Linked DNA regions of Homo sapiens: region 1 is linked to region 2. Evidence: fine-mapped expression QTL. A gene starts in region 2. The other region holds a variant in brackets. All regions are shown on one strand. Distances are between the middles of the regions.

Region 1 (5,376 bases), 43 kb after region 2:
TCCAGTTGGTTGAATCGGCTACTGAAGCTTGTGCATTCATCATGTAGTTCTCATGCCATGGGTTTCAGCTCCATCAGGTCCTTTAAGGACTTCTCTGCATTGGTTATTCTAGTTAGCCATTCGTCTAATCTTTTTTCAAGGTTTTTAACTTCTTTGCGTTGGGTTTGAACTTCCTCCTTTAGCTTGGAGAAGTTTGATCGTCTGAAGACTTCTTCTCTCAACACATCAAAGTCATTCTCTGTCCAGCTTTGTTCCGTTGCTGGTGAGGAGCTGCGTTCCTTTGGAGGAGGAGAGGCACTCTGATTTTTAGAATTTTCAGTTTTTCTGTTCTGTTTTTTTCCCCATCTTTGTGGTTTTATTTACCTTTGGTCTTTGATGATAGTGATGTACAGATGGGGTTTTGGTGTGGATGTCCTTTCTGTTTGTTAGTTTTCCTTCTAACAGTCAGGACTCTCAGCTGCAGGTCTGTTGGAGTTTGCTGGAGGTGCACTCCAGACCCTGTTTGCCTGGGTATCAGCAGCGGAGGCTGCAGAACAGCGAATATTGATGAACAGCCAATGTTGCTGTCTGATCGTTCCTCTGGAGGTTTTGTCTCAGAAGGGTACCTGGCCGTGTGAGATGTCAGTCTGCCCCTACTTGGGGGTGCCTCCCAGATAGGCTACTCAGGGTTCAGGGACCCACTTGAGGAGGCAGTCTGTCTGTTCTCAGATCTCAAACCCTGTGCTAGGAGAACCACTACTCTCTTCAAAGCTGTCAGACAGGGACATTTAAATCTACAGAGGTTTCTGCTGCCTTTTGTTCGGCTATGCCCTGCCCCCAGAGGTGGAGCCTACAGAGGCAGGCAGGCCTCCTTGAGCTGCGGTGGGCTCCACCCAGTTCGAGCTTCCCGGCCGCTTTGTTTACCTACTCAAGCCTCAGCCATGGCAGGTGCCCCTCCCCCAGCCTCACTGCCGCCTTGCAGTTGGATCTCAGACTGCTGTGCTAGCAATGAGCGAGGCTCCGTGGGTGTGGGACCCTCTGAGCCAGGCGCGGGATATAATCTCCTGGTGTGCCATTTGCTAAGACCATTGGAAAAGCACGGTATTAGGGTGGGAGTGGCCCGATTTTCCAGGTGCCATCTGTCACAGCTTTGCTTGGCTATGAAAGGGAATTCCCTGACCCTTTCTGCTTCCCGGGTGAGGCGATGCCTCACCCTGCTTCAGCTCACACTCGGTGCGCTGCACCCACTGTCCTGCACCCACTGTATGACAAGCCCCAGTGATACGAACCCAGTACCTCAGTTGGAAATGCAGAAATCACCCATCTTCTGCATCTCTCTCGCTGGGAGCTGTAGACTGGAGCTGTTCCTATTCAGCCATCTTAGAACCCAATATCAATAGTCTTTTTTTTTTTTTTTTTTCTTTTTGAGATGGAGTTTTGCTCTTGTTTCCTAGGCTGGAGTGCAATGGCGTGATCTCAACTCACTGCAACCTCCGCCTCCCGGGTTCAAGCGATTCTCCTGCCTCAGCCTCCTGAGTAGCTGGGATTATAGGCATGCACCACCACGCCCAGCTCATTTTTGTATTTTTAGTAGAGACGGGGTTTCACCACATTGGCCAGGATGGTTTCGATCTCTTGACCTTGTGATCCGCCTGCCTCAGCCTCCCAAAGTGCTGGGATTACAGGGGTGAACCACCACACCCCCGGCCTCAGATATTTTTTGTGACCCATTTTCTGTCTCCAGTTACATGTCACTACACTGCTAGATACTGTAACAATTTTCCGGGCTCCATTTGGTTTTTTTTTTCCTTCAATATTTTCTTCAAATTGGATAGTTTCTGTTGATTTAACTTTGAGTTCACAAACTCTTTCTCTGCCATCTTTTGCTATTAAGCCTATACAGTGAACTTTTTATTTCATTTATTTCTTGTCAGATCTGGAATTTCCATCTGTTTTTTTAAATTTTATGAAACATTTTTACAGTGGTTAGATACACGTAATGTAAAACTCATCATCTTACTCATTAAAATGTAGAGTTCAGTGATATTAAGCACTTTCATATTGCTGTGCAACCATCACCACCATCCATCTCCACAATGCTTTTTCATCCTGCAAAACTGAAATTCTATATATTTGGCCATTGTTATTAGTTTCTGTTTCTCTATTGATCTTGTCTTTATTCCTTATTCAGATATTTTCCTTTAAGTGCTGTAAATTTTCTCTCTGCTAAATTGCAACACTGGGTCATCTTGGTGTTGGTTTCT[A/T]TAGATTGCTTTTTTCTTGAGTACAGGTCACATTTTCTTGTTTCTTAGCATGTCTAGTGATTTTTGATTGAACACTGGACATTATGAATGATATAGAGATTCTGGATTCTGTTATGATCTTCAGAAGGGTATTTTTTTTTCTTGGCATATTGTTAATATGGCAAGATTTAAGCTCTAAACTCCTATCTCCCCTGCATTAGCCGTAGTTGAAATCTCCATGCAGTTCTTTCAATTTCCAGTTGTTACTTTTTGCTGGCCCCCCCTGGGTTCTCCAGCCAAGGATCTGAACATATATTTAGTTGCAGATTTGGGAGTTTCACCCCCTGTGTGGCTCCCTCCCTTTCATGGTTTTGTCTTAACTTTCTGGCTGCTCTTCCAGCCCTGAACTTTGTCCCTGTCACTCTGAACCATGCCTTATAGGGATTGGCATGTATTCTTAGGCAAAAAGCTACAGATGTATAAATCTCACCAAGTACAGTTCTTCTCTTTCAAGGGTAGCCTCTCTTTCAATTTCTACCTGCTTTTGATCATTCTCCCAGTGCCTTCAAATAATTTAAAATATGTTGTCCAAAGTTTATAATTGTTTTCTGTGGAAGGGTGATGTGACACTGCTACTCTGTCACTGTTGGAAGCCAGATGCCAAGCAGATACCTTTTGGGGCTTACGTTCAGATGCTTCCCTTGTTCTCAGCCTTGTGCTCAGCTGGGCTGTGGAGGAAATAGGACTTCTTCTCAGGGAGCTCCATTTTCAGCTGAGGAGCAGAGAGGGCACAGGGAGCCCTGTGGGAGTATCTTAGTCAGCTCAGACTGCTGTAACAAAATGCCACAGTTGAGTGGCATAAACAACAGAAATTTATTTCTCACAGTTCTGGAAGCGAGAATCCAATATCAAGGTGCCAGCAGGATTGAATTCTGGTGAGGCCTTTCTCCTTGGCTTGCAGATGGCTGCCTTCTCATTGTGTCCTCACATGGCCTTTTTTCCTGTGTGCATGTGCTCCTAGTGTCTCCTCCTCTTATAAGGATTCTGGTCCTATTGGATCAGGCCTCATCCTTATGGCCACATTTAACCTTAATTATATCCTTGAAGTCCCTGTCTCTAAATATACTCACATTGAGGGTTAGGGCTTCAACCTGAATTTGAGGGTGGGGGATACAGTTTCGTCCATAACAGAGATTAATCTAGCTTCTAGCCTCAGGATTTTGTGAGGGAGGTAGGGGAGACAGAGTTGTGTTGTACCAATAGCATCAGGACGTGTTCAATCAGTCACCATGTAAATGCAGAATGTTCCAGGCATAGCATGAAGGGCTAAGGATTCAGTTAGGGATAAGACTGGCCCCATCCCTGCCCTCATGGAACTCACAGCCTAGGAGGATAAAAGATGTATAGACATGACATTGCAGAGTGATGAAGTAGGGGACGTACAGGGCTCCCTGGGAACACTGAGGAAGAGGTGCCCAAATAAAGGTTAGGGGTCAGGAGAGGCTTCCTCAAGAAAATGTCTTTCTTTCTTTTTTCTTTTTTTTTTTTTTTTGAGATGGAGTTTCGCTCTTGTTGCCCAGGCTGGAGTGCAATGGAGTAATCTCGGCTCACTGCAACCTCCGCCTCCTGGGTTCAAGCAATTCTCCTGCCTCAGCCTCTTGAGTAGCTGGGATTACAGGCATGCGCCACCACGCCCAGCTAATTTTGTATTTTTAGTAGAGACAGGGGTTTCACCATGTTGGTCAGGCTGGTCTCGAACTCCCGACCTCAGGTGATCCTCCTGCCTCGGCCTCCCAAAGTGCTGGGATTACAGGCTTGAGCCACTGCGCCTGGCCAAGAAAATGTCTTTCTAAATTAAAATGCTTCCATGGAAGGATGGCGTGACCAAGCTACTCTGTCACTGTTGGAAGCCAGATGCCAAGCAAAAAGCTTTCGGGGCTTAGGATGAGTGAAGCATCAGCTGTGGAAGAAAAGAAAATCAAGCAGAGGGAATGGTAAGTGTGAGGGAATCCCGGGTTGAGAAGGGCACTCCAGAAGAACAGAAAGTCGATGAGTAGAGGTGGAGCTAGAGCTGGGAGAACTGGGGAAGTGGAGCAGTGAGGGATAAGGCCAGAGAGGTAGGTTGGGGCCAGCTCACTTGTTGGATTGTAACTGCCTATCCCTCTAGAGAGTAAACTCCTTTTTTCTGTTCTTTTTGTTTGTTTTTTGCTTTTTCTTTTAACATTTTTATCGTTTTTTATCTTTTATCTTTTTTCTTTTGAGAGTAAACTCCTTAAAGACAATGAATAAGTCTCCTTCAGCTTGGTGTCCTCTACCTGGCAGAGAAGCTGTGTAGTAAATGTTTACAGGTGCCCTTTGTTATGATTTGTGGGGTGAGGTGGAAAGGTTGGGCGTGCAGGTGACTTCACCTCCTTGGTGAGGCAGGCAAGGGCCTGGAGGTTGCTGGCCATCTCTGTCTGTACCTTGTCCCTGTGCCCTGGGTCACATGGTGTTTTGTTGTTGTCAGGCCTGGACAGCGAGTCCGCCTCCAGCAGCATCCGCTTCAGCAAGGCCTGCCTGAAGAACGTCTTCTCGGTCCTACTCATCTTCATCTACCTGCTGCTCATGGCTGTGGCCGTCTTCCTGGTCTACCGGACCATCACAGACTTTCGTGAGAAACTCAAGCACCCTGTCATGTCTGTGTCTTACAAGGAAGTGGATCGCTATGATGCCCCAGGTAGAGCCTGCCCCTGGGCCAGGCATCAGGGCCCCAGATCTAGGGTGTCAGCTGGCAGATACTCCCTGAGCTGCCGTTGTATTTGTGGTACTACGGGCAGGGCAGAGGAGTCCAACCAAGCATAGTCTAGGTATAGAGTCTATGCCCAAGGAGCTGCTGTTGGGAGTGTGTTACGTGCTGAGGACAGAAATGGACAGAGCCTGGAGCAGCTACTGCAGGCTACTAGAGGGGTCAGGGAAAGCTTGGCAGAGAGGTAGGATTTGAGATGGGCCTCGAAAAGCACATAGATGGGAAGAGAGTGTCTTTGGGATGGGGATCAGCAGAGCGAAGGGGTGTCTAGGGAGGCAGAGGGCTTCTCTGGAGAGGATGAGACTAACTTGGCTGGGGCCAGAGGGCAGGGATGAGGAGAAGCAGGAGTCAAGGCTGGACTGTGGGGTG
Region 2 (5,376 bases):
ATGTATTATACAAATTGTCACACTTCTGAGTGAAAGGGTGTTATTAATAATTATCCCTGGATAACAGGCATAGACCAGAACAATCTAGGTCAAACAACAGCGCAGCACAGCTTGAACCCACTGCACTCAACTGCCTCTCTCGTCCCTCGCTCCCCTCCTCTCTCTGGCTCCTTCCTTCCACCTACAGAGATCCTCAGGCTCCACTCCCAAAACAATTGTTTCCTACCCCTGTTTCCATCTCAAGGTCCTCTCTCTCTCAGTTAAATTTCAATCTATAACATCAACATCAAAAAACCAAGGGTCTTTTCTCAGTCCTCATCTTGCAGTTCTGGCACTCTTGCTGTAACCTCAGTGGTGAACTCTCTCTTTCCTTAGATTCTTGTGCCAGTGGTCCCAAAGATCATCGGGTCAGTTGGAGAGTCCCTAGAAGGAAGATTCCAAGAACCCAGCATATAGTTCTACTCACAGCTGGGAAGGAAAAACACAGAGGGAGAATCTAGGGGAATCTATGTGCAGGTTTCCTATGCTCTCTCCCTCCCATGAGGAAGAGCACACTCTTCCCCCAGCAACAAAACTTGACAGTATGTGCCATTCTTCTGGCAGAACATTCCTCTGCTAGAGATGCCCATTAGACTCAGCACCCAAGGTTTTCACTGGGGGCTGGTCACATGGGGCACCCTCTGCCTAGCATATACAGTGTTCAATACTAACCACACCATCTGTATATACGGCCTAGGCAAGTGAGTCCACCGTTATTGGGTAGGGAAGGGTGAGAAATCCAGACACTAGACAAGTCCCACCCTTGCAAGTAGGCTTTTCTAAGGAGAGCAGGCCTGCCATGTTAATTCTTTTCTGCACGGATGCCTGGACTCTGAACCATCTGGTTCCCTCTGCTACCGGCAAAAAGGCATCCCTTAACATCCTCACATCCCAGCCATGTCTCCCTCCCTCGGTGTCCTCACTGACTCATGGTTCTAAATGGCCCCTTCACAAATGATGCCCAAACTGGCATCACTGACTAAGGGCCAGGTTTCTGATACCCCCATGCAATCCTAGTCCATATAAGGCCAATTAACTCAGGAATTAGCGAGACCAGGCCAGAGGGTTTTGAAAAACATCAGGCCTCTTCCTGCTCTACCACTAACAGGTGGCAGGCCTCAGTTTCCTTATGTGTAAAAGCAGGAGATGGGTTCCTGCCAGCTCTGAAATACTATGGTACTATGACCTCCCCCCAATGCCGTTCCCCCGCTCCACATCTAATATCAGCCCCCTGTTGGTCCTTGTCGTGCGGCTCCAGTCCCAACCAACCCAGGTGGGCAGGTGGTTGTGAGTTTTCTGGACGCCTCTAGACTATTGACGTGTGTGGGTGTGTGTGGGCGGGGGGGTCTCTATTGACGTGTGGCGGGGGGGTTGTGGGGGTCTCTAACCTCCAGTCCACCCTCTGCGCTCACTTCCAGCTTTGGCTGAGCCCCAGGGGTACATGACCTAAAAGTGGGTTTGAGGAGTCCGATGCAGAGGCCTGGGATACAGGGGCAGGAAAAGGAAGTGCAGGCAAAGACTGGCTTATCCCAGGACCTGTCTCAATTCCCACCTAACCCAGGGAGCAGGCTCTGCTTCCCTCCCTCCGTCCCCCGCCACTCCCCACTATGCGTGGGCACAGTAAACGCCTCGGCTGATGCTAACATGAAAACCAAAAAGTTCTGAGGTCTGTACGCAGATCATCAACGAAAAGGCGGCTAGAGGGGAAATCTCCCGGGGACCGAGGGAGAAGTTCAGGGTGGGGTGTGCGGGCAAAGCGGAGCGCTCCGACTGTTGAGGACTCGTCCTCACCCCTCGGCCATCCTTCGGGGCCTAGAGAGAGGAGGCCCCCCGCCGGCCCAGGGCGCCCGCCGCGGGCCGCGCGTCCCCCAGAGCTTCCTGGGCCGCCGGCGCCTCCTGGGTCCCCGCTCGGCTCGCCGCAGATCGGACGCCACCCCGGGTCCCTCGGCCCGCGACACCCCCGCCTACCTCCTCCCCGCCATAGCGGGCCAGCTCCTCCTCGGTGAAAAGCCGCACTGGGGGCCCCCGCTCGGCAGGGCGCGGTGTCTGCCCGGCCCGGGCTGTGGGCAGCCCCGGGGCCAGCGCCAGGACCAGGGCCAGCGCTGCCAGCGGCCGCAGCCGCCGCCGCGGCGCGGGGCCCACCATGGTGAGCGCGCAGCGCAAGGCAAGGCCGGGCCAGGGCGGCGGGGCCCTAGCACGCCCGCCCAGCGTCCCGGAGTCCCGCCCCGCGCCCAGAGCCTCCCCGAGGGCGGGGACCCGAGAACTCCCGCCCTTCGCGCGCCTCCTGCGCCCCGGGGTGGGGCTGGCCGGGCTACTCGGGCCACGCAGCTGGAACCTGGAAATTAGGATTGGAATCCTGAACTCCTAAATCCAAACTACAGACTGGAAGTTACCAAAAAATGTCACAGTGGTTCCTTGATCAGGTAGAAAGATGACAGAGCCCAACATACCAGAACCTAGAAAGGTATATTTCTAAAATAAGACCCCAACTGTCTTAATTCGCTTTTATTTTTGGCTGATTTTTTTTCTTCCTGGTTGTGTTTAAGTTTCTGGTTCCCAAGGAGATTTTTGCAAAGGGTAGGGTGCTGTTACCGATACGCCCTGAAATAATAATAGCTAACATTTGTGCCAAACTTTGCTCATTACTTTATGCAACAAATATTTTTGAGTACCTCCATGTACCAGGTCACTGGGGACTCACCACTGAACAAGACAGATCCACGCCCACGTGAAGCTTACATTGTGTGGGCAGATAGACAATAAGATGCTAAGTAGTATGTTAGATGGTGGTAAATACTAGGGAGAAAAAGTAGGGCAAAGAGATAGGGAGCACTGGGATGGACATTTTATTTTATTTTATTGTTATGTATTTATTTATTTTTGAGACGGAGTCTGTCGCCTACGCTGGAGTGCAGTGGCGCCATCTCGGCCCACTGCAACCTCCACCTTCCGGGTTCAAGTGATTCTCCTGCCTCAGCCACCAGAGTAGTTGGGATTACAGGCACCCACCACCACGCCTGGCTAATTTTTTTTTTTTTTAATTTTTAGTCGAGATGAGGTTTCACTATATGCTGGCCAGGCTGGTCTCGAACTCCTGGCCTCAAGTGAACCATCCACCTCATCCACCCAAAGTGCTGGGATTACAGGTGTGAGGAACGGTGCCCGGTTATGGGGATGGTCATTTTAAATAGGCAGGTTAGGGAAGGCCTCACTGAGAACAGGGTATTTGCATAAAAATCTACAGGAGGCGAAGGAGGCGGTCTAGAGGGAAGAGCACTTTGGTCAAAGGATCAGGTGCATAAATGCGGAGGAATGAGGATGCCCGGCTTGCTGGAGGATCAAGGGAAGGTAAGAGGGGTAGGTGAAGTCAGGAAGGAAGCGGGTAAGGGAGTGGGGGTGGATCTTGGGGGCTTCACAGGTTATTTTCAAGACTGGCTTTTACTTTCAAGACTGGAATAGAGGAATTAACAGAAAAAGGGTCTCATTCCAGACCCAAGAGCAGGTTCTTAGACGTCCACGGCAAAGAATCAGGGCAAGTCGCAGAGCATAGTAGTTAAAATAGTTCATTAGAAACTACTCCATTTCTAATAATAGTACTACTGTGTTTCTGAGTAGTATCCTTGCTTTGAAGTAGTACTAAGCAAGTATTGTTTATATAGGAGCACCTCTGCCTTCAATGTAATGCTTGCTTTTATAGGGCTAAAACTAGCGTACTTCATTACAAAAGCCTATGATCAGCTTGTTACAGACTATTAGTATTGTTATTCTCTTGTGTAACTATTGACTTCAGGGAGAATTTATGGGTGTACTGTTATCTTTAAAGTGAAACTCATTTTTAAACTAAGAATGCCTTTTTCCATTATCTCATTTCCTCAACCATAAACATCTTGTGAAGAGTGCCTATCTTCCTGGGAAAGTCGCCCAGCAGGTTTGGCTTTATCTGACCTTTATTCAAGATGGAATCACTCTGGTTAGGACACTTCTGACATAATTCCCTCCTCCTTTTTACAAGGAGACCTTTAATCCTAAGGGGTGCAGGGGGACAGAGATCCATCTTCAGTAACTTCAAGCTGAACAGAAGCGATGATATTCCTGCCTAACCATTAGGATCCCTTTGCCCAAAGTAGAGAGCTAGCCAGTCAGAAAGCATCTGTATAGTGAGGACCAATCATACATAATTCTAAGTCCCAGAAAAAGGTGAAATCTAGAAAATTAACGTGTTAAATTTAAAGAAGCATTGAATAAGCTTAACTCTTATTCCTACATAAAAAGTACAATGCAGTATATTCCACAGCACAAAACAGAATGAATAGAATTATCCCAAGCATGCTAAACAAAAAAAGTTTCCCAAGGACTAGGCAGTTGTTAGAACCAAGCTGATATGGGGTCAACTGACAGCGTGTCAATGGCAGAGATGTGGGTGTCTAAGTCTTTTGTGGCCTGAGTAACATTATGTGAATAGTCTGGAATGTATGCATAACATTCTGTTTTGATTATAGCATAAGTTCCCCCTTTGAGCTGCTGTTAACATGTCCAGAGCCATAGTTTCATAAGGCTATCTGTCTAATTTGAGATGTTTCTTCAGTCAAGAGGGTAAGGGCATGGCGTGTATTATTGAAAACTGCAGCTGTGTTTAGCTATGGCTTTGGCTTGAAGCTCAATGTCAATTGTGGCTGCCTGTGGGGAGAAGACAGTGTCAGGCCTCTGAGCTGAAGCTCAGCCATTGTAACCCTTGTGACCTGCACCTATAAGTCCAGATGGCCTGCAGGAGCCAAGAAGTCTGGAGCAGCCAAAAAAACACAAAAGAAGTGCAACAAAAGAAGCTCCTGCCTTGACTGATTGACCAGCCTTACGACGTTCCACCATTATGAATTGTTCCTGTCCTGCCCCAACTGATCAATCGACCTTGTGACATTCTTCTTCTGGACAATGAATCTTATGATCTCCCCACCATGGACCCTGTGACCCCCTCCTCTGCTGACAATAGATAACCACCTCTAACTGTAACATTCCACTGCCTACCTCAGTCCTATAAAGCTGCCCCTCTCCTATCTACCTTCGCTGACTCTCTTTTCGTACTCAGCCCACTTGCACCCAAGTGAATAAACAGCCCTGTTGCTCACACAAAGCCTGTTTAGGTGGTCTTCTATACGGACACATGTGACAGATAGCCAATGGGTAAAACAACCAAGAAGACTGCTTTTGTCACTTATGACGAGCTTTTACAGTTTCCCAGTTAGATGGGAGAGATTATAATTTAGTGAGGATACATCCTGGGAGATGAAGATGACCCTATGTACATCTTCCAGTCCAATTATAAGGCACATATGGCCAGCC

What was found. PIP is the estimated chance that this variant, and not a neighbour inherited with it, causes the effect. A credible set is the group of variants that fine-mapping cannot tell apart.
Region 1: its variant is the best candidate, but not a certain one, in a credible set for the expression of NENF in whole blood (INTERVAL, PIP 0.88).

Annotation. Positions count from the first base shown.
Region 1 is chr1:212,386,453-212,391,828 of GRCh38, reverse strand. PACC1 (proton activated chloride channel 1) reads left to right here. Exons shown (of 8, transcript NM_018252.3): 3 at 4,729-4,938. Among named protein-coding and RNA genes, the nearest start is that of PACC1, 26 kb to the left of the region's middle. The variant A/T (reference allele first, on the strand shown) is at 2,244.
Region 2 is chr1:212,429,752-212,435,127 of GRCh38, reverse strand. NENF (neudesin neurotrophic factor) reads right to left here and starts at 2,208. Exons shown (of 4, transcript NM_013349.5): 1 at 2,008-2,208. The coding sequence starts at 2,184. LOC105372906 (a long non-coding RNA gene) reads left to right here and starts at 2,311. Exons shown (of 3, transcript XR_922577.4): 1 at 2,311-2,503; 2 at 3,284-3,387; 3 at 4,797-5,167. RefSeq lists an enhancer at 1,613-1,702, a silencer at 1,863-2,422 and a cis regulatory region at 3,846-4,133.